4 linked regions of the Homo sapiens genome follow. The protein of the gene in region 2 interacts with the protein of the main gene of each other region in a pairwise test. Each region holds a gene or a part of one and is shown on either strand. Other genes may lie near its edges.

The links.
Region 1: the proteins of PTCHD1 (region 2) and TADA1 interact in a two-hybrid assay, tested with the Homo sapiens proteins (one study listed by BioGRID and IntAct).
Region 3: the proteins of PTCHD1 (region 2) and STMN2 interact in a two-hybrid assay, tested with the Homo sapiens proteins (one study listed by BioGRID and IntAct).
Region 4: the proteins of PTCHD1 (region 2) and ZNF350 interact in a two-hybrid assay, tested with the Homo sapiens proteins (one study listed by BioGRID and IntAct).

The regions. Positions count from the first base shown.
Region 1 is NC_000001.11:166,873,238-166,880,845, reverse strand, and holds the start of TADA1 (transcriptional adapter 1), read left to right. Parts: upstream 1-4,581; 5' UTR 4,582-4,612; coding exon 4,613-4,686; intron 4,687-7,608. UniProt on the Homo sapiens protein: Probably involved in transcriptional regulation.
Region 2 is NC_000023.11:23,400,849-23,404,874, reverse strand, and holds the end of PTCHD1 (patched domain-containing protein 1), read right to left. Parts: 3' UTR 501-4,026; downstream 1-500. UniProt on the Homo sapiens protein: Required for the development and function of the thalamic reticular nucleus (TRN), a part of the thalamus that is critical for thalamocortical transmission, generation of sleep rhythms, sensorimotor processing and attention. Can bind cholesterol in vitro.
Region 3 is NC_000008.11:79,606,471-79,614,133, forward strand, and holds the start of STMN2 (stathmin-2), read left to right. Parts: upstream 1-4,646; 5' UTR 4,647-4,725; coding exon 4,726-4,744; intron 4,745-7,663. UniProt on the Homo sapiens protein: Regulator of microtubule stability. When phosphorylated by MAPK8, stabilizes microtubules and consequently controls neurite length in cortical neurons.
Region 4 is NC_000019.10:51,983,825-51,991,438, reverse strand, and holds the start of ZNF350 (zinc finger protein 350), read left to right. Parts: upstream 1-4,598; 5' UTR 4,599-4,669; intron 4,670-6,690; exon of another isoform or gene 6,691-6,733; intron 6,734-7,444; exon of another isoform or gene 7,445-7,614. UniProt on the Homo sapiens protein: Transcriptional repressor. Binds to a specific sequence, 5'-GGGxxxCAGxxxTTT-3', within GADD45 intron 3.

The sequences.
Region 1 (7,608 bases), on a different chromosome or scaffold from region 2:
TTAAAAATAGAATTACCATATGATCTAGCAATCCCACTTCTAGGTATTTATCAAAAAGAATTAAAATTAGGATCTCAAAGAAATATTAGCATTCCTATGTTCATTGCAGCACTATTCCCAATAGCCAAGATGTGGAAATAACCAAAATGTTCATTGACAGATGAATGGATAAAGAAAATGTGGGAGGTGTGTGTGTGTGTATACACAATGGAATACTATTAGCCTTAAAAAGGAAGGAAATTCTGCAATATGTGACAACATGGATGAACCTTGAGAACATTATGCTAAATGAAATAAGCTAGTCTCAGAAAGACAAATACTGCTGCATGACTCCACTTACATGGGTATCTAAAATAGTCAAATTTATAGACTCAAAGAGTGGGATGATGGTTAACAGAAACTGGTGAGAGGGGAAATGAGGAGTCACTAATCATAAACTTTTAGTCAAGCAACATGAATAGACTCTAGAGATCTGCTGTGCAACACTGTACCTGTAGTCAATAATAAGGTATTGTGCACTTAAAAATTTGTTAAAAGGTGGGCTCTGTGTGGTGGCTCACGCCTGTAATCCCAGCACTTTGGGAGGCTGAGGTGGGCAGATCATGAGGTCAGGAGATCAAGACCATCCTGGCTAATACGGTGAAACCCCATCTCTACTGAAAATACAAAAAAAATTAGCGCGGCGTGGTGGTCCGTGCCTGTAATCTCAGCTACTCGGGAGGCTGAGGCAGGAGAATCTCTTGAACCCAGGAGGCAGAGGTTGTAGTGAGCCGAGATCATGCCATTGCACTCCAGCTTGGGTGACAGAGCAAGACTCTGTCTCAAAAAAAAAAAAAATTGTTAAAAGGGAAGATCACGTATTATGTGTTCTAACCACAATAAAAAAAAGAAATCCTAATGTTAAAAGACCAGTGCTTAATAAAATACAGAATAGGAATGGGAAAAATTAAGGAGGTACAGGCCAGGCTCTTATAAATATGTAAGTAAACTAGCTATGAGAATACACTTTTTAGAGGGTTTTCCTTTGTTTGTACAGAATTATATTTATGAAGGAAAAAAGTTGTATAGAAACAGGCAGTGTATATGAATAATACCACCAACCTTCAGTTATCTATCTAATGAAATGGAAAAAGATATGGATAATATAAAGGAAATTTTATTTTATATAAGTGGAGAATACATACACATATTTACACACATAATCCATATACTTGGAGAAATATTCATAAATACTTAGATGTCAGGTAAGGTTGGATCCTCAGATGTCTGTTCTCAGCAACTTATTGAGTTGACTCTACTAGTTACTCTCAAACCAGCCTGTAACCAGCTGGATGATCCAAAAAAAAAAAAAAAAAAAAAAAAAAAAAACTAGACTAAACATTTGTCAAGTTTCTTGCTCTTTATAAAGCATTTTGACACACATTCTCTGAAGCTATTTATTAGTTGCACTATGCATTGTACAAATATTGCTATAATAAAAGATTTAGAATTAGTTCCTTTAAAGTAACCTTCCAAATTACAAGTGGTTTTAATATTCATTTCCTTTCAAAAAAATTTGTTTTTTAAAGTTGAGGTCTCACTCTGTTGCCTAAGCTGGAGTGCAGTGGTGCTCTCATAGCTCACTGCAGACTTGAACTCCTGGGCCCAAGAAATCCTCTCACTTCAGCCTCCCCAGTAGGTGGGACTACAGGCATGTGCCATCACCCCTGGCTTGGTATTCATTTATAATATTGTGTCCGGCATTGGTTCCTTCCAGTGGGTTCTTGGTCTCGCTGACTTCAAGATGAAGCTGTGGACCCTCGCGGTGAGTGTTACAGTTCTTAAAGATGGTGTGTCCGGAGTTTGTTCCTTCAGATGTTCATATGTGTCCTGAGTTTCTTCCTTCCAGTGGGTTCGTGGTCTCGCTAACTTCAGGAGTAAAGCTGCAGACCTTCACAGTGAGTGTTACAGCTCGTAAAGGTAGTGCAGACCCAAAGAGTGAGCAGCAGCAAGATTTATCATGAAGAGCGAAAGAACACAGCACCCACAGCATGGAAGGCCACCAGACTGTATTCCCGCTGCTGGCTCAGGTGCCCAGCTTTTATTCCCTTATTTGGCCCCGCCCACATCCTGATTGGTCCATTTTACAGAGTGCTGATTGGTGCATTTACAAACCTTTAGCTAGACACAGAGCGCTGATTGGTTCGTTTTTACAGAGTGCTGACTGGTGTGTTTACAAACCTTTAGCTAGACACAGAGCGCTGATTGGTGCGTTTTTACAGAGTGCTGACTGGTGCGTTTACAAACCTTTAGCTAGACACAGAGCGCTGATTGGTGCGTTTTTACAGAGTGCTGACTGGTGCGTTTACAAACCTTTAGCTAGACACAGAGCGCTGATTGGTGCGTTTTTACAGAGTGCTGACTGGTGCGTTTACAAACCTTTAGCTAGACACAGAATGCTGATTGGTGTGTTTTTACAGAGTGCTGACTGGTGCGTTTACAAACCTTTAGCTAGACACAGAACGCTGATTGGTGTGTTTTTACAGAGTGCTGATTGGTGCGTTTACAAACCTTTAGCTAGACACAGAGCGCTGATTGGTGCGTTTACAATCCTTTAGTCAGAAAAGTTCTCCAAGTCCCCACCCAGCCCAGAAGCCCAGGCGGCTTCACCTCTCAATATTAAATTGTTTGGTCAGATGTCCATTTATGTATATTATATTGTCTAACATTACAGTTTAAATGGACATTTAACTGAAAAACTGTAGTAAAATTAGTGTTAATAGGTGTATAAGTGCTGAGAGAGAAAGGGATATTTAATTGAGCTAGACGTATGAGTATTGTCAAGCATGGGTTCAAAAAGAAAATCTTTGAGGCCTATCTTTCTTCGTGGCTAGAGACAAATGAGAAACAGGGATTCTTCCTGGAAGATGTACCCAACTATCTGTAGCCTTTCCTAGTCCTGTTGACTTGATCCTTGAATAGATTCATATATATGTTTGAACCTGATTCAAAAAAAATGGAGGTAGCCAACCATAAGTCTCAAAACCAGCAGAGAGGAGATATGCGTAAAGGGGAAGAGCCATGTGATTTGTTAAAGTCAAGTTAACTAGAATGCTGAGTCCAAGTGTGGGGTTATGTGGGAAGGCCAGTGGTGTGTGAGGTACACAGGTAGGGTGAGTTCAGATCATGAGAACATTTGAATGCTGGAGTCTGGAATTTGTTCAGCAGAGCGTGGGGAGCCATGGAAAACTTAAGTGGATATTTTTTAAATGTGTCAAAACTTACCCAGAGTTTTGACACAGAGAGGAAGACTTTGCCTGACCTTTGTATCTCCTTTCACCTGTGTATCTCCAGTACTCAAAGAGTTCCAGACACATAATAGGAGCTCACTGTATGAATTCAAGTGAAGAGAAGGTGCCCGGCTGGCATTGCAGCCAGGACAGGGCTTGTGGGTTTAGGTTGGGCAGTGAGGAAGTTGAATGAATGAACTTAAGGGGACATCTTTGGAGAAATTACACAAGATCTAAAAGCTATCTAGGATTATTTAAAAAACTTTGGGAGGCAATTTGACAATATACACCAAGGCATTTATAAATATTCCCATCATTTGATCCAGTAATTCTATGTGTGGGACTCTATGCTAAAGTAATAATCCTAAAGGAGGAAAAGTTTTATGCATAAAGAAGTTTTGCTTCATTATGCTATATGCTTCAAAAGCAATATTACAGTATTGCTTTTTAATAGAGAAGAAATGGACACAGTCTAACAATTGGGAAACAAGTTGTGTACCTTCTATCTGTGGGGGTATTTAATATGTTGTCATTAAAATTATTCTAAAGACAATGTAATACTACAGATAAATCCTTAAGTTTAAAAACGTGCAAAATTGAACATAGAATATTTTAAGTCATGGGAGTGTGCGAAGTGAAGGAGAAATCTCTCTCAGTTAAGTGTTTGTCCGGGAGTGGTAAAACACTTTTTCCTTCTTTTTATCTTTATCTTTCTGTGTATTTTCCAAATTTTACATAGTTACCTCATTTACTCAAATACTTATTAAGCATCCACTATGTGCCAGGCGCTGCTCTAGAGAATTGCGGGTAACAGTGAATAAAACACAACTCCTGTCCTCGAGCCATAACATTTACAAGATAAATCAACTAAATGTCATATGAGACGGTTAGTGCTCGGGGAAAAATAAGGCAAGGAAAGAGTAAAACTGATACTGCATTTACTTTTTTAAATGGAGGGGTAAGGTACTCCTCCAGGCAGAAGAACAGCAGGCTGAATTCGGAATTGCCCCAGCGGTAACAGAATGAAAGAGCTTGGGACACGCCAGCCTGTCAGCAACGTTGCAGCCGAGGCGGGGCGCGCGGGTTTAGGATGGGCGCGCGACAAGGTGAAGCGGATCACGTGACTCGAGGGGCGGGAGGAAGAGAGCAGAGTTTGGCCGGGCACCTTCCCTGCGAAAAGGCGGGCGGAGCCGAAAACCAAACAAACGACTTCTGAGAGATTGGGGGCGGGACTGACGGCGGCCGGCTTAGCTTCCAGAGCCAAGGCCTTCCGCCGAGTTGGTTTTTGGGTTGTTGATCGCGGTGGCCGGGCGGTCTGCGGTCGGGCTGAGACACGCGGAGCAATGGCGACCTTTGTGAGCGAGCTGGAGGCGGCCAAGAAGAACTTAAGCGAGGCCCTGGGGGACAACGTGAAACAGTAAGAGCTGCCCTAGCACAGCGTCCAGGCCAACACGCGGGTGCTCTCCTGGCCTCGGGCTGCCAGCCCGCCCCGGAGACGCCCGCGTCGCCCGGGGGCCTGTGCAGCCTGGAGTCCGCGGCGGCGGGGCTTCGGGGTTTCTCCGGCCGGGGCGGGGCGGGCCACCTGAACTCACCGCCCTGGAGAGACCGGGCCTCCTGGGCGCCCGGGAGACATCGGCGGGCGCCGTTGCTCGGGACTGTCTGCCCTGGGTGGGGCGGGAGAAGCGCACTTCGCACCCAAGGGCCTGCTGAGCAGGTGCGGGCCCCAGCGCGGGCGTGCGGGATGCGGGAGGCTGACTTGGGCGGAGTGAGCCGGAGCCCTACGCGTCCAGCCAGAGGGCATAGCGCAGGGCGGCCCGCCCCTGGAGGGCTTCCTGGAGGTGGAGGCCTGTTGAGCTGGTGTGATCTGCTACGGATTATTGGTAAGCTCTTTTGACAGCAATTTCGTAAGGCAGACGGACCCTCTGGTGAAATCACAGTCATTGAACACTACAATTATAGTGATGATAGCAGTAGCGGACATTTTAAACATTTTAAGCTCTCTAAATATATTATCTAATCCTTACAACAGATGTGAGATAGGTACAGTTGTTATTCCCATTTGACAGATGAGAAGACTGAGACCTAGTGCGGACAAGTAACTCTTCAAAAGTCACTGTCAGAGTTGGGACCCACGCTTTTGATTCCCGACTGATGCATTAGAGGGGCTGTAAAGGATCCCAGAGACGCTCAGCCAGACCTTCATCCAGGTTATGGCAGGGGACCTAGTGCACAGTCAGGTTAGGTGCAGAATGGCCAAGGGTAAAATCAGTATCCAGTCAAAGCCAAAGCCAAAGAGCAAAAAAGGAACCTCTGGGATACAAGGAAGAGTTTGGAAATTTTCAAAACGTTGTTATTACAACTTTATTTTTCAAAAATATAGGAAGCAAATATAAACGTTTAAAATTACAGTGCCTGTGTTGTTGCTGCTAGATGGCTTCTCTGGTATTCTACACATTTGCATTACTCAGTGGATGCATACTTTTAAATGATGTTGGTGGAGGAGCAATTTGGGAATACTTAATTTTTCTCCAATACTTTCTTTTCATCCTTCTCTGTTCTTTATTATTACTGGATTGAAATTACTTAGGTTGGATGTCATACATGAATTTTGGAGTTTTTCCTTCATGTGAAATTTTGGGGTGGCAGAGTTGACAGTCTACTTTTCATCCTAACAAGATAATAATGGAAACTATAAAAAGATTAAAATTAAAATCTAAACTGTTATTTTAGCATAATTATTTAATTTTTGGTGAACATTTATTTACGCCCAGAGATATGTTTCACTTTGTGTTTGGGGGTTGGGGTCTTGCTCTGTGGCAGAGGCCGAAGTACAGTGGCCTGATCACACAGTTCACAGCAACCTTGATCTCCTGAGCTCAAGAGATCCTCCCCTGCTGTGAGCCTATAACTGGGACTGTAGGCACGCCCCGCTAATCCTGGCTAAAGTTTTTTTTTTCAGAGACAAAGTCTTGCTGTGTTGCCCAGGCTGATCTCAAATCCTGGCCTCAAGCAGTCCTCCCGCATTGGCCTCCCAAAGTTCTGGGATTACAGGCATGAGCCACCACACCCGACTATAGTGTACCACCGAAAATTGTCTTTCGATATTGATGTTCACTGTGCTTATTGAATTAAATATTCTTACTTATTTTAATAGGTAAAATTGACAGCTTTCACCCTAATTACTGTAGCTTTTTACTTTTGTAATACCGACTGATAAAATTTACCTTTTTTTTTTTTGAGATGGAGTCTTGCTCTGTCGTCCAGGCTGGGGTGCAGTGGCATGATCTCCGCTCACTGCAGCCTCCACCTCCTGGGTTCAAGCACTTCTCTGCCTCAGCCTCCTGAGTAGCTGGGATTACAGGCACCTGCCACCACGCCCGGCTAATTTTTGTATTTTTAGTAGAGATGGGGTTTCACCATCTTGGCCAGGCTGGTCTTGAACTCCTGACCTCGTGAGCCACCCGCCTTGGCCTCCCAAAGTGCTGGGATTACCGACGTGAGCCACCGCGCCCAGCCAAAATTTACATTTTTAAGCACATAAGGGGCATTTCACTCTGTTCCATCTAGAATGCTTACAAATATTTGAAAGCAAACGTTTACATACCAAAATAAATCTGAAGGACCTGGCTTGTGTATGATTGCCTTTAACCCTGATTAGATGCAATGGTGACCTCTGTCATCCCATACTCATCAGTTACAGGTTCAGGGCTGCCAAAAGTGTTTTTGAAGTTAGCATTCCTTATTTAGTTTTTAAAGGCCAAAGCCGACTGTCTGATGTTGGTCAAATACTGATGCTGAAGCTAAATTTGGTGCATCTGGAGTGTGAATCCCCACTAAAATGCAATCAAAAGAGATTTTTATGCCAGAAACAGTTAATGGTAACGTATAGTTCTAAATTTGTTTTTCCATTCTCTCATTGTTCTTTTCCCTTCTCCTTAAAAAGTACCTCTGGGTTAAATAGTCAGTAATACTCTTGTACTGTACAGTCATTTCTTATATTTCCTCCATGAGCAGTTTGCTTTGGTTTGCACAACCTATTTAAGTGTGGTCCTCGGTGGTAGGCAAAACATACAGGGTTATGCACGGAGGCTGGATATGAGTTATTTGCTATTTATCCAGTGGTCTGAACATCCTTCATGTCTGACTGGTTGGGTTGTGTGCCCAAGCTGCTTCCAGGAAGACATGGGCTTTGCTAGGCAACTCACTTTGTATAGTAGCCAGTAGAATGCCATGTTCAAATAGGTGCCTGATTTCTTTTGAGGATTTGATCATATGTTATTTATTTATGCATTTATTTATTTATTTTGAGAGAGAGTCTCACTTTGTCACCCAGGCTGGA
Region 2 (4,026 bases):
ACAAAACAAAACATAAACAACACTGAAGAACCCATACTAATTACTCTTAAAGAGAAATGAAATACCTGGACATAAAAAAGAAAGAAAAGGCCAGGCGCGGTGGCTCATACCTGTAATCCCAGCACTTTGGGAGACCGAGGCGGGTGAATCACTTGAGGTCAGGAGTTCAAAACCAGCCTGGTCAACATGGTGAAACCCCGTCTCTACTAACAATACAAAATTAGCTGGGCGTGGTGCACATCTGTAAATCCAGCTGCTTGGGAGGCTGAGGCAGGAGAATCGCTTGAACCCAGGAGACAGAGGTTGCAGTGAGCCAAGATCACGCCATTGCACCCCAGCCTGGGTGACAGAGTGAGACTCTGTCCCCCCCCCCCAAAAAAATCAAACTGGAGATATTCCCCTGGCCCACCGACATTTGACTCTTTGTTGTGTGCTTAGTAGAGGATTAGAAATAAACCCGAAAAAGTGAAAGCAAAAAGAGAAATATGTGAGATGATAGATATGTTAATTAGCTTGATTTAATCATTCCACAATGCATACATATATCAAAACATCACATTGTATCCCATAAATATATACAATTTTTATGTCAATTAAAAATAAATGAATAAAAAAGAAAAGGTGAAAGCAATACATTTGAAATCTCCTTTACATTCGAAATTTGATATCAGTATTGAAAACAGGATGCTTCATTGGAAGATGGGATTTTAATATGAAAAGATAGTCAACTAAGGACTCCATGTATTTGGCATGAGCCATTTCCCAGGTGACTTGGGGGCTTCTACATTGTATAAACTCGATGTGCAAGCATGAAAGATCGCCCTCTGGTGAAAGCTGGTCAGATGGAGAGGAACGGTGGAATTGCCAATCATCAGTGGGATGGTTTTCCCTGCTGATTTTGTTTCTGTGTAGGTGTGGGATGATTTAAATGCATATTTTAGGCATTAGAGAAACTCAAGTAGTACAAAATACCGGATTTTTTTTTTCCTGAAAGAGTTGGCCGTTTTTTATTACCTTGATTTTTTAAACTATCTTTAAAAGGGAAAAATACTGTACATATTTGCCTCAAATGTAACAAGTTTAGTCATATTTTTATAGATATTAAGAAATGCAGGGGTCTGGGGTGGCATACACAGCCTCTTCAGATAAAACATTTCTGTTTATATCCACGAACCATTCCCCTGTAGATACTGCAAATAAGCAGTAGAAACATCTAGGCTTGTTAATGTTCAGAAGGGCCTTGCTATGATGATGTAGAGGGTACCAAAAAAGATCTGTGTGTCTCTTGACTTTCGGTAAAAATTAGAGTTTATTAATGCCCCTTGCTGCAAAGTATTACAGCTCTTTGTGGGAAATTGTTCTGGGTACATTTTTGATTAAATTCCACCCTGAGCACGTTCTGCCTTTCCTGGAGAAAAGTGATGTGACTCACATTTTTTAAAGCTTTAGGTTTGACTATTATTTTTTTCTAGTAGGGTTTTATGCTTATCTGTCTCAAAACTGACCAAGCTGAACTCATTATGTGCTCTAGCATTTGGATACTTTTTCCTAGTTTGAAAATAGTTTATTATGACCAGAATCACCCACTTGCCTAAGTGTGAAGAAACCCAACTAAAATACTGGGAAACACAACATTAACTATGGGGTCTTTTTGGAGGAACAGATGATAAGGTTTCTGAATACTGAATTAGTGGTTACTTTGACAAGCTGTGGTCTTACGATCTATTGCCATGGAAGCAACTTAAAAATGTATTGTGATTTAGCCCAAAACTTTACAATGTAATATGCAATTTCAGGAACTTCTTTCACTAGCAATGACAATAAGAGAGGGGCCATGTTTAAATGTTTAAACTATTTTATGTCTAGGGTGAGGATCTTTTCCAACATTACTAAATATTCAACATAGCTTCTCTTCTTTTTTGTTTTCTCACCTACTACAATTGGACTGTTAAAGCAACATTGAACAGTTATCACTATTTTGTCATTAATAATTATTGGCAGAGATTATCTTTGCTGTTAAAAATACTAAGAGCATTGGCTATGTAGACATATTTTTTACAACTTTGAAACCTTTGTACATTTAGAGGAATGAGAGAAGTTTGATCAAGAAATTACTAAAACCAAGCTGAAATTTCTTTTGTTTGGGCCTAGCATTCAATAATTCAATAATTTTGCTCAAGGGTTCTAAGCTGGATTGTAAACCACAACAAATAGTGGGTGGTTGTATTATGGGATCATAAACAATAGGAAGAGAACTTGAGTGTATTCAAAGCTGCTGAAGAGGAATTATAGGTCAATAATTCAAAAGAGAATATGGGGTCTCTTTATTCAGAAAAACATAGATTCAGGCTCTGTATCTTTATCTTATAGACAATCCAGAACAATTTACATTATCCTCAGCTCATATTCAGTCATTCCTCACATATTTGATTGTTTTCAGCTTCCCAGTAATTACTTTTTCCCTGTTATACTCTATGCCAAGGTTTTTTGGGGGAACTGCACTAGGGTTCCTCTTAATGTCCCCTCCCATCCACTCTGTGTGTGTGTGTGTGAGAGAGAGAGAGAGAGACAGAGAGTTTGGTATAAGCTTCTAAGCTTCTAGTCTTGGATAGTTCTTCTGTTGCTTGTGTGACTGTTCTTCTAAATGGATGTTGCCTATCACCAGGCCTCCATGCATGGCACTTCCTTTCCTTGAGGTTGATGAAATGCACCGGTTTTCCCGTCAAACTGATGCTAGGGATCAATGGAAACTGCCCACTTCTTCCTAAGACGAGGAGTTGGCAATTTGGAGGGATCACCCCATATATTCTTCCTCACCACTTCTTTCCCCCTTCTCTGGATCACCAAGCAAATATTCTAAATAAATTTCCACAATTCCATACCTTGGAAGAGATCTCTGTCGTTTTGGGTCTATGCTATTCTTCTTGCTTATGACTTGGAAAATTCCAACAAATGCAATTTTCCCACTGTGAAACTGTTAGCAATTTTTAAATTGCAAGGCACATTCACTTTTCCAGGTTTCTTTTCTTTAAAGCTTACTATTTGGCTGCTCTTAGCTGTGCTCGTGCATAAGAAACATATAGAAGGGGAAGATAACATTTTTTCAATGGTATCCTGCAGACATCCGAAGCCTTTGGCCTGCCAAACCTTACAGAACTATAGGGCTGGGCCTGCCAAGGCATTTTAATGTGCCTCAAATGTGTCAGGCATATTGTAAAAGGTGGTGTGCATGTGTATGTGTGCATGCACATCTGTGATATGTGTGTATGTAAGCATGTGCATATGTACAGGTATATGTTTCTATGTTTTATAGTTGTGTTGTACACACATATATGCATGTGTACATTTATGTGTGTCAATGTGTATGTGTGTGTGTGAAGCAGAGCCAACGGGTCATTACCAGTTTGCCCAGTCACCCACAGTCCTGGGAGGCATCGTGGCAACTGCCTTGGTGATTCTGGATCAGTGCGTAAAGGCAATTTTGACAGGATGGTAATTTAAAGAATAAATATCTGAAAGGCTGAGCTAAACATGTTCAAGATTCATCCTAGAAAATTAAGGAAATTGTTTTGTCAAAGAGAACGTTATTAGTTTTCCTGAGCATGAGCCTGGAATGAGTAATGGAAATGGGCTGGGTCTTTGCCATTTTGCAGGAATTAGACAAAGCACTTTGTTGATCCTAATGAACAAAGCCCTTGCCGGGCACGGTGGCTCACGCCTGTAATCCCAGCACTTTGGGAGGCCGAGGCGGGTGGATCACGAGGTTAGGAGATCGAGACTATCATGGGTAACACGGTGAAACCCCATCTCTACTAAACACACACACACACACACACACACACACACACACAATTAGCCGGGCGCGGTGGCGGGCACCTGTAGTCCCAGCTACTCAGGAGGCTGAGGCAGGAGAATGTCGTGAACCTGGGAGGTGGAGCTTGCAGTGAGCTGAGATGGCGCCACTGCACTCCAGCCTGGGTGACAGAGTGAGACTCCATCTCAAAAAAAAACAAACAAACAAACAAA
Region 3 (7,663 bases), on a different chromosome or scaffold from region 2:
TAATAAATGACTAATGAGAAAATCTCCCAGGAAGGCAGTATACTAAAATGCTTTTGCTTTTCTCTTCCCTAAATCCTCCTCCTCCTCTTTTCAGCTTGATTTAGAAAAATAAGGTTCTTAGGCAACTGTTATTGTATGTATAATGCAATGCTCACAGTAGGGGTTCTGTTTAAAAAATAAAATAAATTGAGGCTTGTGGGATAAACAGAGTGAGTCACACTTCTCCCAGATTTCTCTTCCAGGCACTTCAGTGTTGTCTCCACTGTTTGGTTTGTAAACTAAGATGCTGAGTGAAATCTCAAGGGGAACCAACTTCCCAGCTTCAATGGTGTCCAACTAATGTTCTCCCTGGACTCAAGCTGTAAATCAACTCATGGAGAGAAGGAAAAAGTTAGTTACAGTAATTGCTGCCAAGATAGCGAGTAGTTTTCAACATTATCAATTTAATGTAAAGATTCAGCTCATTAAATTTATATCAAGCCTTTCTTATGATTAGAACAAGTTTATTTCCAGAAAAGTTCAATTATAAAACTATCAATAGGATTTACTAATTTCAATAAGTCATTTTGCTTCAGGGTGAATTATACTAATTATTAATACATACAAGTCCCATTTGGACATAAAGAAAACCCTAGGTAGAGAAAAAATAATAATAATTAACTAATCATTGTTTATTTTTAAATAACTAATTTAAGAAGAAAACAATGAAGTGTGTTTGTTCCACACTTCAGAAATAACTCTAACACACTGGCAAATTCCTGAGCAATACAGAGCTCACTGCTAATAAAGAACACCAACTCTCCCTCCTTGGAATGACTTTCCTTTTGAATAAACCATATTAGACAGTTCTATTAAAGGACACATGATCCTTTTTATTTTTCATTAATCTATAAGAATTTAAACATGGCAAAATAATCAAAATGTTAAAAAGTCAACTATTTTTTCATGTGTGATTATTTTAGATGCATCTCTAAATATCTTCAGCTATAACTACTTTATATCCTAAATTTCTAAACATCTAAAAAAATTCAATGGATTTTATCTCTCACATTTCTTTTGTAATCACCTGAGGTCAGATCAAAACAATTAATTTGACCTTAACAATGTTTCTCTTATCTCACTAACTTTTAATAATTACTTTAGGATTCTTTCCCAGGCACTTGATTATGAATAGCAGAAAATCATATGACTGTGTTAGATGGCATCAGCTAATCCTCCAAAGCAACTGCTTCTCTCTGGTTTGGAAAGAAATCAACACCTCAGGCCTCCTCACAGAGATAATACACACTAGGCTATAACCCACAATAATTAAAATTTCTGTTAGCAAGTCTGTGATTTCCACAGCTCCAGCTTACTGCTGGCTGTTAAAGATAACAAAAATTAACAAGGGCCATCTACTATTGTGAGCTCTACTCATTTAGGTTCTTTGGGAATAGGGCAGGATATAAATAAATAAACACTGGTAAACAGCCTAATACCTGCTCCCAACACAAGCTAAGCAAAGGAGGTTAGAAGTGTCAATATGGTCTCACTGGATTCATCCATTTTGAATCATTTTCAACACTGTATTATTTATTATTTCACAAATTGTTTTTAACTGTCTACCACGTGAATCATGAAACCAACCACTAGGAAGGGTATAAAGATATACACTATTCATTCTCTACCTTTCAAAGGTTTAAATGTATTGGAAACACTAAATATAGTCATAGTACTTAAAATTACTATATATCCATGATGGCTTAGACAGTTCATACATGATAACCCTTCAGTCTACCCAAATCCCCACACGACAGATACTGGTTGTCCTTAGTTTATACTGTGCAAATGTAGTACCTATTCTTTGAGTGTCCACCCATTCCCATCAAAACCATTTCCTTCAGGAAAAGCTGATCTCACCTCCAGACCTCTAGGGCCAACTCTATCTATATGGTTAGACGAAACAGCAAATGCACTTTTATTATTAGTGCCAGTTTGGGTTATTTTTTCAAATTTTTGCAACAAAGTGTGATCCACAATACACAAGATCATATTCACTCCCCCAAATTAATATTTTCTTAAAGAGATGGGTGTTATATTTTCCTTCACTTTCTATTTTTCAGACATTAAGGAGAAGCTTGGCTGGCATCACAAAAGCCTGAAACATCATCAAATAAATATTTGTTGAATAAATTAGCTGAACAAATGAATAAGTGAATAACATATTGAATATGAAATAATTTTTCTGTTCATATTTCACCCTTACTTTCCCATGTGAATATGCATGATACCATATTGTAATGATAAAAGAAAACAAAAAACAATTTGATAATGGCACAGCCCTTTGAATTTATTTGTGTTTTCTTAGCTGATTGACAATTTTGCCTACTATCTTTTTATTCTATGGTAAATCATATTGACCTACTCTCTTCCCTGTTTGACATTATTTAAAAATCATTCATAACTGAAGTTAGGTGGCTAACACCTAGAAAATCGGAAATAGAAAAGAGTCACATATGTGACCCTTAGGGCAGTAGAATGAGTGTTTTGTTTTCCTCATAGTCATCAAAAGTGCAATCGATTTCATTCAGCAGCCAACTGCAGTTGTTAAAGAAACTAATGCCATGACTTAGGGCCCTTGTTCTCCAAGGAAGCTGAAGAATGTGTAGAGATGACACACAGCCTGAGGGGAAAGGGTGTGGTGGGGAGAAGAGAAATACTTTGAAAATATTAGTCACACAGACATGCTGAAGATCCTTCACCTCATGAGTGATAACTACTCCAGTGAGAGGTGATTAACTGTTACATTTAAAGTGGGAAATGCCTATATATAGAGAGAAAATGGTTATTTATTTCCAGACCCTGCCAACTTCCATATTGCTCTCTTGCTGTGTCATAGTCACAGACCTGTTCAAAGATAGGAAATATAATTTCTAATCTTCCTGTTCAAGAAATAATTTTATTGATCTCCACTTCATCTTTTATTTTCCCCATGATTCAGCAGGTCAAAACTGTTCCAGTTCCAGTAGCATCCTATCAGTCAGCAAAATGTCCATGAGGTTAAAATGTCTTACAAGTTAATAGGAGGTGAAGAAATTCATTTCAGCACCAAGGAGAGTGCCCTGCTATTTTCAATTGGTTTTATGTATTTGAAACTGTGTATTGTTCCTGAGGATAGAAAAAAAAGTTGAAATGTGATTGGACAGAAAGCTGCTAAAAACCTATTTTAATAAGAAGAAAAAAATACATTCATTTTTCTGAAATTAAAAACTTGCCAGGGTTTCATACCTGTTCATGATTGCAACAATGTGCTCTTCTTTTGGCTTTCAAACGTCGGAATTAGCAATTCTTTGCCTATTTTTCTAATATTAAAACCAGTTTCTGCATGGAATTAGACTGGCTCAATAAAGTTACAGAAGAGTTAAATTAGCAGTAATTAAAAACTTCATGCAGCAACTCCTAAACTTTTTCTCACCATTTTCAGAGCTGTGCACATGGTAAATGCTCAATACATATTTAAGTCAAGTGAAAGAGAACAAATGAATGACTGGCATCCATTAAGTGAGAAGGAGGAACTAATAAATGCCTTGTTTGTAATGAAAGTCATTTTTTGCAACTAGTCTCAAAGATCCTCACATACGACATTGCTCAATCCGAAACTTGAACACAGCCTTCCTGGGCCTACATAAACGTAGTCTCTCTGGATCTCAGAAAAATAATGACCCAGACCACACCTTTCATCTCTTCTAAGTTTTCCATGTAAAGCATTCTCCTTAGAGCCCTGGAAAGGTTACTAAAATTTTGACCCACTTAATCCTACACCTTCAGGGCAACATGGCATTCACCTGTGGTTTCCTTAATGCCCAAACCAGCCAGCCAACCTGTTTTCTGCCGTGTTAACAAATGGACAGGACACAGGCACCAGAGGTTAAACTTTCTTCCTCTTCCCCCATGTCCCCAGGTGGACCATTATTACCATCCCTATTCCCAAGCAACCAGGTAGCCCCTTCCTCTGTGCCAAGGGAAGAAAACACCATGCTTCCCTCTCCTGAGAGACCTTCAAGAGTTTAGAGACGCCTAAGTCCAGCTGTGCTAAAAGATAAAGGACAATAATGCAAGTCTGCTCTGAGCTGCCACCATAGCCAGACATAGGGTAGCCCTGAAAGACTAGAACCAAGGACAGAGCCAAAGGTGAAAGAAAATATGAAAAAGTGAAAACACAGTATTTAAACAGAATTTTCCAACAGCCTGCATATAGTGAGGACTTCTCAAGCTTCTGAATCCTTTTCCATTGAATTGTGCAATGGCACATGTATGAGCAAAGTCAAGCCTCCTGGCTCCCAGGTAGGCACAGCCCAGTTCTTAGCTCCTAGGAAGCTTCAGGGCTTAAAGCTCCACTCTACTTGGACTGTACTATCAGGCCCCCAAAATGGGGGGAGCCGACAGGGAAGGACTGATTTCCATTTCAAACTGCATTCTGGTACTTTGTACTCCAGCACCATTGGCCGATCAATATTTAATGCTTGGAGATTCTGACTCTGCGGGAGTCATGTCAGGGGACCTTGGGAGCCAATCTGCTTGAGCTTCTGAGTGATAATTATTCATGGGCTCCTGCCTCTTGCTCTTTCTCTAGCACGGTCCCACTCTGCAGACTCAGTGCCTTATTCAGTCTTCTCTCTCGCTCTCTCCGCTGCTGTAGCCGGACCCTTTGCCTTCGCCACTGCTCAGCGTCTGCACATCCCTACAATGGCTAAAACAGCAATGGGTAAGGCACTGCGCCTCGTTCTCCGTCGGCTCTACCTGGAGCCCACCTCTCACCTCCTCTCTTGAGCTCTAGAAGCATTCAGAGATATTTTATAAAGAAAAAGATGTTAATGGTAACACAGGACCAGGAAGGACAGGGCAGTTCTGGGGGAGGTGGGAGGGCAGAGAAGAGGTCTATGGAAATCTAAAGCGAAGAATTTCTTTTAAAAGGTAGAAGCGGGTAAGTTGCCCTCCTATGGGTAGAGAATTTATTCTGTTTCCATATTTAAAATTAGGACTCAATCGTGAGGGGAGGAAGCTACCTTAACTGTTTGCCTTAAATGGGCTTAAGGGACATTTTGGAAAGTGCTTTATAACGACCTTTTTTTTTTTTATTTCTTCTCTAGTTTAAGAAGAAAATAGGAAAGGGGTAAAGGGAAGGTGGGAGAAAGGAAAAAGAAAATTGCAAAGTCAAAGCGGTCCCATCCCGCTGTTTGAAAGATGGGTGGAGACGGGGGGAGGGGATGGAGAGAACTGGGCACATTTTACGGTATTGTCTCGTCGAAGAAACCGCTAGTCCTGGGGTGCGGTGCAGGGAGGTAAGACGGCGGGGGACAGGGTGGGGGTAGGACCTCCGCTCCTTTGTTTTAGGGCAAGGGAGGGGAAGGAGAGAGGAAGTCGCGGAGGGCGTGGAGGGCGCGGGTGGGCAGCTGCAGGGGCGGGGAAGCGCGCGGCAGGGAGGGGTGGAGGGACAGCGGCTTCGAAGGCGCTGGGGTGGGGTTTCTTTGTGTGCGGACCAGCGGTCCCGGGGGGAGGCACCTGCAGCGCTGGGCGCACAATGCGGACAGCCCCACCCAGTGCGGAACCGCGCAGCCCCGCCCCCCCGCCCGGTGCTGCATCTTCATTCGAAAGGGGGTCGGGTGGGGAGCGCAGCGTGACACCCAGGAGCCCAACCCTGCGGGGACAGCGGCGCCACGCCCCGCGCTCCCCGCTCCCGACTCCCCGCCGCGGCTTCCAAGAGAGACCTGACCACTGACCCCGCCCTCCCCACGCTGGCCTCATTGTTCTGCTTTTAAGAGAGATGGGAAAAGTGGGTTAACATTTTTCTTTTCGGAAGCAAATTACATAGAGTGTTTAGACATAGACACAGATAAAGGGTTCTTTGAAGACCTTTGATCGTTTGCGGGAAAAGCTTCTAGAACCTAGACATGTGTATGTATAATAATAGAGATGACATGAAATCGTATATAAAGCAAAAGAGGTCAAAGTCTTAAGTTAAGCCACGCGAAATTTCCGTTTTGTGGGTCAGACAGTGCCAAATATCGGCAATTTCATAAGCTCAGAGAGACAAGACAGTGGAGACACAGGATGACCGGAAAAGATTCTGGATTCAGGGCCTTCATCCGCAATTGGTCTTGTGCCTTGAGTGCCCACGGTTCTGGCGCTCAGTGGCCCCGGGGTGAAAAGGCAGGGTGGGGCCTGGGGTCCTGTGGCAGCTGGAAGCACGTGTCCCCCGGGACTTGGTTGCAGGATGCGGAGACAGGGAAAGCTGCCGAAAGGACTCCATCTGCGCGGCTCCGCCCTGCCCTACCCTCCCCGCGGAGCCGGGGAGACCTCAGGCTCCGAGACTGGCGGGGAAGAGGAATATGGGAGGGGCAGTTGAGCTGTATGCAGTCCTGGAACCTCTTTTTTCAGCCCCGCAGTCCACAACGGCCCGAGCACCCCTTGATGTGCGCAGACCCCCGGCGTGGCTCTCAGCCCCAGCACCGAGCCCCTCCCAGCCAAGCGGGTGGCTCTGCAGAAAAGCTGGCTCGAGCCCCGCCCGGCCACACAAAGGCGCGGCCCCACCCAGCCCGGGCGCGAGACCGCAGAGGTGACCCCCTTCCCAGGGATTCAGGGAGGGCTGTCTCTTCTCGCCCACCCACGGTCCGCGGAGCTCGGGGCTTTTTTTCCCCCAGCCCAAGCCCCCCGCCCACCCTCTGTTCTCTATGATTTTCCAGAATGGAGACCCCGCGAGGGGCTTCTCTAAGGGAGACCCTCGCTCCTCCAGCGGGGCGCGGCTCGGCCCCACCCCTCCCAGCTGAGGCCCAGAGCCGCCTACCGCTGGCCGGGTGGGGGCGCACGTGGCGACTGGGTGTGTGGAGCGCAGCCAGCCCTGCAGAGCCCCGCGCCGCGCCCTGCGCTCCCCTCCCCGGAGTTGGGCGCTCGCCCCCGCGGTGCAGCCGGGGAGACCGGTTTCTGCGCAGTGTCCTGAGCTACCCCCGCTTTCCACAATTCGCAGTTCACTCGCACGTCCAGAAAGGTTCTGAGAATGGGTGGTGGGGGCGATCTCGCCTCGCTTTCTGCACCCCTCAGAAAGGTTTCCGCTGCAGGCTAGTGGCTGCAAACTCATCGTCATCATCAGTATTATTATCATTTCAAATCGTTGTTATTATTTAATGATTCAGTAGCCTTGTTTGTTCTCATTTGTTCAAAAGGGACGTGGATTGCTCTTGGTTAAGGATTAACCCTTGTTGCGTTCGCTTTGCTTCCTCCTAATTGCCCTCATCCCTTTCCCCCACAAAAAGGTAAATTTGTCTCCAGTTGTTCATTTTAAGTTATAAAGCAAATATATTTTTGCTTCCTGCCAGGATTATGTATGTTCATGTGGCTAAGATACATGTGCAAGTGCTTGCTAAGAGCAGGGTTTGTGTGCCAACGATTGCTGGAAAATTCTCTGCAAAGAATTGTTTGTGGCTGCAATGGGTGAGAATACACATATATAATTGAGATGATCTTCAACATAAGGTTATATCTATAAATATATAAATATAGTTTATGCACAAAATTTTAAGTTTTTTCCCCTGAAACTGTTCTTCCAACTGCTGATTCTTGATACAGCCTCAATCCTACACAGATACATGGATCGTGAAATGGTAGCCGCCATCCAAATAAAAATCCC
Region 4 (7,614 bases), on a different chromosome or scaffold from region 2:
ATACGAATATACCACTATTTGTTTATTCACCCACTGAAGGACATTAGTTTTGTTCCCGGTTTTTCTTACTGTTACAAATAAAAATCCTATGAACATTTGTACACACAGGCTTTGTGTGAGCACAATTTTTTACTTCTCTAGGATAATTACTGCAGAGTATGATTCATGGGTCATAAGGTAAGTGTATGTTTACCTTTGTAAGATACTAACCAGAGTGGTGTTTCATTGCTCACCAACAATATATAGAAAGGTTCAGTTGCTCCACATTCTTCCACTTGATGCTGTCAGTATTTTTTTTGTTTTGTATTGTTTTGTTTTGAGATGTAGTCTTGCTCTGTTGACCAGGCTAGAGTGCAGTGGCACGATCTTGGCTTGCTGCACCCTCTGCCTCCGGGGTTCAAGTGATTCTCCTGCTTCAGCCTCCTGAGTAGCTGGGATTACAGGTGCCTGCCACTGCGCCTGGCTAATTTTTGTATTTTTAGTAGTGACGGGGTTTCATCATCTTGGCCAGGCTGGTCTCGAACTCCTGACCTTGTGATCCACCCGCCTCAGCCTCCTGAAGTGCTGGGATTACAGGCGTGAGCCACCACGCAGGACTGGAATGTTTTATTTTACCTATTCTATTGTGTGTGTATTGGTATGAATACAAACATACCAATTGTATGTGGCCTTCCATTTGCACCTCCCTAAAGGCTTTTTTTTTTTTTTTTTTAAGAGACAAGGTCTCACTATGTTGCTCAGGCTGGAGTGCAGTGGCTATTCACAGGCACCATTATAGCACACTACAGTCTCAAACTCCTGGTCTTGAGAAGTTTTCTGTCCCAGCCTCCAGAGTAGCTGGGACTGCAGGCATTTGCCACTGTGCGCTGCTTAGAGCATTGTTTATTAATGCTGGATAAAGATTTTATCCAGCTGGATAAAGGTTTTATATCACTTGCAAATATTTTTCCATAGATGTGGTTCTTTCTTTTTTTCTCTCAGAGAAAAAGATTTTAATTATGATGAAGTCCAACTTTTTTTTTTGAGATGGAATCTTGCTGTCTTGCCCAGGCTGGAGTGCAATGGCATGATCTCGGCTCACTGCAACCTCTGCCTCCCAGGTTCAAGTGATTCTTCTGCCTCAGCCTCCCGAGTAGCTGGGATTACAGGCACCTGCCATCATGTCCCACTAATTTTTGTACTTTTGTAGAGATTGGGGTTTCACCGTGTTGGCCAAACTGGGCTCAAACTCCTGACCTCAGGTGATCTGTCCACCATGGCCTCCCAAAGTGCTGGGATTACAGGTGTGAGCCATTGCACCCAGCCTTTTTTTTTTTAATGGATTGTGGGGTTTTGGCATTACATCTAAGTATTCCTTCCTTACTGTAATTGATAATTCTTTTTCCACTTCCTTTGACAAAATAATGTAGTTTTGCTTCTTTTTTTTTTTTTTTTTTTTTTTTTTTTTGAGACAGAGTCTCACTCTCTCACCCAGGCTGGAGTTCAATGGCATGATCTTGGCTCACTGCAACCTCCGCCTCCTGGGTTTAGGTGATTCTCCTGCCTCAGCCTCCCAAGTAGCTAGGATTACAGGCACGCACCGGCATGCTCAGCTAATTTTTGTATTTTTAGTAGAGACGGGGTTTCACCATGTTGGCCAAGATGGTCTTGATCTCCTGACCTCGTGATCTGGCCACCTCAGCCTCCCAAAGTGCTGGGATTGCAGGCGTGAGACACCACGCCCAGCCAGTTTTGCTTTTTAATATTTAGCAATATCCATTTAAATTCATCTTTGTATATAGGGTAAGGGTTAATTTAAAGTTCAGCCTATGGTTGCCCAGTTGATTCAACAGTATTGAAAACACTGTCCTCTTTCCATTAAATTGATTTTGAACATTTGTAAAAATCAGTTGCCTGTTCTTGTGTCCATTTCTTGACTCTATTCTGTTGATGTGCGTGTCTATCACTCCACTAATAATCTACGGTCACTCCCATCAGAAATGACATAATATGCTCTATGAGGTAAAACAGCTATGTTACCTCATATAAAATGTTCAAAGCCAGAACCTGGACTTTGGGAAATGTCCCATATCCCTCTCCGGAAGCCCGCCTCCCAGTCTCTCGGTGTTCTTAGAGATGGCGAAGGATGGGGTTGCAGCACCAGAATTCCAGAATCGGAAGTAGGTTCTGATACGTGTTCAGCCTTTGGCAGCTGCTACTGTAGCCTTGAAAGCCTGATGCTGCGTGTGAATCCGGATGGGGAGCTTGTGGGGACGACCATGAAGTGGAAACGCATGTGAATGTCCGTGTTCAGGGGTTTTATTTCAGTTTAGTCACCGAGGAATATGGGTGTGAGAAAGAGACCCTTGGGATGTCAAAGGTTAAGGCTTAGTTTTAAGAGTTTAATGACTGAGGGTCCCACGGACAGAGCTTGAGGTCTATATGTTCACTTTTCATGAGTCTCAGTAATAGAAAACTGGGGAAAGTGTGTCTCAGTGAATGCTGTTTTTTGCTCAGATTTGCAATTTAATATGGGGCTCAGATACAGAGAAGCCCGAGCTAGGAAGAGGAGTGGCGTGAATGAAAGGTCTAGGGGGAGGAGTGTCAAAGGAGTGCCTCTGTGGTAAGTTTTAAATTGAATTTGAAGGCAATTTTATTTAGAGGAAGACGGGGCTTGTCTGTGTTTGAGAATGTAATGAGGCTGGAGGCTTTCAGGTGTGCAGTTGAAGGTTAGTGGTTGCTTTGAGACTAACTGGATGCTGGAAACACTTCCTGTCAGTCTTTCAAGTCCAAATCTGTCCTGAAGGTTTCTATTTAAAAACTTTTTCTTCCTAGGTCCACTATTCTCATTGTACCCATAAAAATCAGAGTAATTCAGGGTGACGAAGTGGTGTCTTTACCGAGGAGTCTTGCTCTGTCGCCCAGGCTGGGGTGCAGTGGCGCGATCTCGGCTTACTGCAACCTCCGCCTCCCGGATTCAAGCGATTCTCCTGCCTCAGGCTCCCGAGTAGCTGGGATTACAGGCGCGCGCCACCGCGTCCGGGTAATTTTTGTATTTTTAGTAGAGACTGGTTTCGCTTTGTTGGCCAGGCTGGTCTGGAACTCCTGACCTCAGATGATCCGCCTGCCTCGGCCTCCCAAAGTGCTGGGATTACAGGTGTGAGCCACCGTGCCCCACTTCACTTTCTTAAATGTTGTGTTTAGAAGCACAAACTTAAAAAAAAATCAAGTCCACTTTATTAATTTTATTTTGTTTTGTGGGTCATCCTTTACTCTCCTCTCAGAATTAACTCACGTCCATGAGGATTATCTCCCTTTTCCTTCTCTAAGTTTTATACTTTCTCTTAAACTTAGATCTATGATCTATTTTGAGTTAACTTTTGTGTATGGTTTGAGGGTCCTAACTCATTTTTCTGGATGTGGATATCCAATTATCCCAGTGCCGCTTGTTGAAAAGACTATTCTTATTGAATTGTCTTGGCACTTTTGTCAAAAACTCTTAACAATATTTTTATACTCTCAATTCTGGCTCTGCTCTTCCCATTGGCACCTTTACTAAAAGTGGCCTTTCTAGGAGGCCCAATTCCTTTAGTCTGTCGTGGCCAGGCTCACATCGTAATTCATTCTCAAAATCTCTTTTCTCTCCTCTCCTCTCCTCTTTTCTCTTCTTTTCTCCTCTTTTCTCTTCCTTCTCCTCCTCCTCTTCCTCCTTCTTCTTCTTCTTTTTTGTAAATAATAATCATTTTTTCGAGGCCAGGCGCGGTGGCTCACACCTGTAATCCCAGCACTTTGGGAGGCCGAGACAGGCAGATCACGAGGTCAGGAGGTCGAGATCATCTTGGCCAACATGGTGAAAGCCAGTCTCTACTAAAAATACAAAAATTAGCTGGGCGTGGTGGCGCGTGCCTGTAGTCCCAGCTACTTGGGAGGCTAAGGCAGGAGAATCGCTTGAACCAGGGAGGCAGAGGTTGCAGTGAGCCCAGATCTCGCCACTGCACTCCAGCCTGGCGACAGAGCAAGACTCCGTCTCAAAAAAAATTATAATTTTTTTCTTTCTTCACCACCCGCCCCCCCGAATACCTGCTATTTTTCTGTTCTTAAAAACCGCTTCCTGCAAGCTAATTTTCGCCAGACGCTTTCCCGTGGGTGTCTGCCTACCTGATGTGTTGCCTTTTCCCTTTCTACCTGATCTGTTACCTTTTCCATTTCCAATTCATTCTCTGGGATACCTACACCTGGCTGCACTGTTACTTGTCTTTTTCAAAACCTTTTTTTTTAAATTTAACAAAGTGGATGGAAAAGCGCTAAAGGCAATTTAGCTTGCCCCATATTTGCCTGATAAAGCCTGAGTCTCTGAAAATCTGCCCCCTTTCGCAAGACTTTAAGTGCCAGGAAACGAGGCGATTTCAGTGACTTCTCTTCTTCCCTGGCTCCTGGCTCAAAAACCTGCCACTGCCTTCTGTGCGTCCAATTTTCAAACATGGCTGCCGTCAGGAGCCACGGCTATGGGCGCGGCCATTTTACAGAGTAGGAAATGCCGTAAATGCGCTTGTCCTTGCTCTTTTAAACATTTTAGGTTCTCCTCGGCCGCCGTAGGTGGACCATAAACCCGTGCGAGGACTCCAGAAGTAGGAGCAGTTTACGGAAGTGTAACGTTGAGGCCCTTCTTGTGTATCTGGAGAAAATAGAGGTCAGTGTGTGGTTTTGTCCCTGAAAGTTTTTTGTCCTAGTTCAGGTTTTGTCTCAGTGGAAGGTTTGGGAGATCTGAGGACGTGGTGTACCCTGGACCACATAGTTTTTGGCAGGAAGACTGGGGAGCGCCGGGGTATAGGCATTTGGGAGGTACCTGGTGGGAGTCTGTGATCCCCCTGTCTGTGGTCCGCGTGCCTTTGGTGTGAGTACAGTGACTAAGGGTCTGTAGTGATCAACGGCCGTGTCCTAACTGTCAAGGTATGGATCACTCTGCTTGTAAAGGATGGAGGTGGCGATTAGGATCGATGCGGCGTCTGCTTCGGGTTCAGGATTTAATTTGGAACTCAGTGATGTTGGAGTCTGGGAGGATGTCCATCGCTGTAGAGTGTCTGGTCCGTGGTTCGGATGAGTAAGAGGCATGGGGCCAGTGTCTGTGGTACAAAGGCTTGTGAGGGCTGAAGCTTTCGAGACTTTGGAGCCCTGGGTCCTGGGTTGAGGTTCGAACCTCGGTTACTGGGGCAAAAGGCGACACAGCCCCCAGCATTAGTTCGAAACCATATATCTACTCTTCTGATCCTTGGGGTGGCTATTTACAGATCGGGGGGTCAAGTTCAGTCATACCCTCCGATTATATATTGTCTATGGCTGCAAAGGCAGCGGTTGAGTTGTTGTGACAGAGACCTCGTGGCCGGCAAAATCGAAAATGTTGCCAACCTCTGCATTCACTTCTTTTATTTTTTATTTATTTTTTTTATTTTTTGAGACGGAGTTTCACTTTTGTCTCCCAGACTGGAGTGCAATGGCGCGATCTCGGCTCACTGCAATCTCCGCCTCCCGGGTTCAAGCGATTCTCCTGCCTCAGCCTCCTGAGTAGCTGGGACTACAGGCCCACGCCACCACGCCCGGCTAGTTTTTGTATTTTTAGTAGAGACAGGGTTTTACCACGTTGGGCAGGTTGGTCTCGAACTCCTGACCTCAGGTGATCCGCCCACCTTGGCTTTCCAAAGTGCTGGGATTACAGGCGTGAGCCACCGCGCCCGGCCTTCACTTCTTAATATATAGTGAGTGTTGCTTGCCCGCCTTATATTCACACTTTCTTAACAGAATCTCCATTTCGTGAAGTATTCATCCCTGTGGCAAGGCGACCCAAATCCCAGTTTCTTAGTAAGGCCTTGTTGGTCTTAGCCAATCTTGCTGGTTCCAATTGCCATTGCTAGTGATAGGTTTGACATGGAAATGAGCTTAGGCGTATGGTGCAATTCTAGCCAACTATGTATGTGAAAATCTGCCTGGGAGTTTCTGAGGGAGCATTTTCTTTTTTAAATATGTAATTTCTTGAATCTCTTTTTCCATGTTCGTGATGATATCGCCTGAAAATAACATTAATTTTCTGTCTTACTTTGTAATGCTTATAATTCATTCTTATCTTAATGCATTGGCTCAACTTTCCAGTATAAAGTAGGAAAATAGGGTGTTAGTGGACGTTCTTGTTTTATTACCCACCTGTAAAATTCACCCGTTGTGTTGTCTGGAGTTAACACCTTTCCTGGAGGTAAACTGTTTGGTATGGTTGATCTCTTCCTTTACTTTGTTAATTTTTCTACATTTATATATTTTAAATGTACAATTTAATTATCATGGAGGCAATATATGTATAAGCAGTCATTGCCCAGGTCAAGAAATAGAATATGGTCAGCACACCAGTGGTGTTCTGTGAGTCTTTTTCCATTCTCACACCGAAAAGTATTTTAGGCTTTTCTTTATATAATTAATCATTATTTATCATTGTAGTTAATACAGTTTTGCCTATTTTAAACTCTGTATATCAGTGGAATTGTACATCACTCTTTTTTTGTGTCAGCCTTCTTTTGCTCATTATTGGTGAGGGTCTTTCCTGTTGCATCTGAGTATATTTTCTTTGCTCAATGACAAGGATCAGGCGAATTTACAGTAAATATTTTAGGGCTTGCAGGCTACATATGGTCTCTTGCATATGCTAATTTGCTTTTTGTTTTACAGTCTTTCAAAAATGTAAAAAGCATTCTTGCAGGCTGGACCAAAGGTATAATAGGTTTTCTATCACATTCCATTATGTAAAATATAGCAGTTTTTTCTATTATTAATTACATTTGTATTACCTAAAGCTTGTATTATTAAGAATAATGCATGTGTGAAAATTTGTGTAAATGTCTTTTGGTTCATATGTGCTCTCATATGGGGGAGGCAGAGATGTATATCTAGATGTGCACCTCGGAGGAAAATTGCTGCTTCATAGAGTGTGTATAAACTCCGTCTAAATAGATGTCAAACTGTTTTCTAAAGTGGTTGTACCACTTACAGTTCCCCTAGCAGGATATAGTTTGCTTTATAGGGTGCTTTATGTGGCCTCTTTAAAATATCTGGCCATACCCTAATAACATTGAGAGATTCTCCTATATTAATGTTCTTTAAAGCTTTATTGATATGTTTCTACCATTGAAATTGACAGTTGATTCTAAAATGGTTTTTGTGTATGTTGTGAGGGGGGTTTTAACTTTCTGTCCCCATCCCCAGTACCATTTATTGATTTTTTTTTTTTTTTTTAATTTTTTTAGATAGAGTCTTGCTCTCGTCGCCCAGGCTGGAGTGTAGTGGCGTGCTTGGCTCAACTGCAACCTCTGCCTTCTGGGCTCAAGTGATTCTTGTGCCACGGCCTCCCGAGTAGCTGGAATTACCAGCAGGTGCCACCTTGCCTGGCTAATTTTTGTATTTTTAGTAGAGATGGGGTTTCACCATGATGGCCAGGCTGGTCTCCAACTCTGGCTCAAGTGGTCCACCTGCCTGAAGGGGGCCTGCCCCTCCACACCTGTGGGTATTTTTTGCAAGGTGGAAATGAGAGACTGAGAAAAGAAATCAGACACAGAGAGAAAGTACAGAGGAAGAAAAGTGGGCCCAGGGGACTGG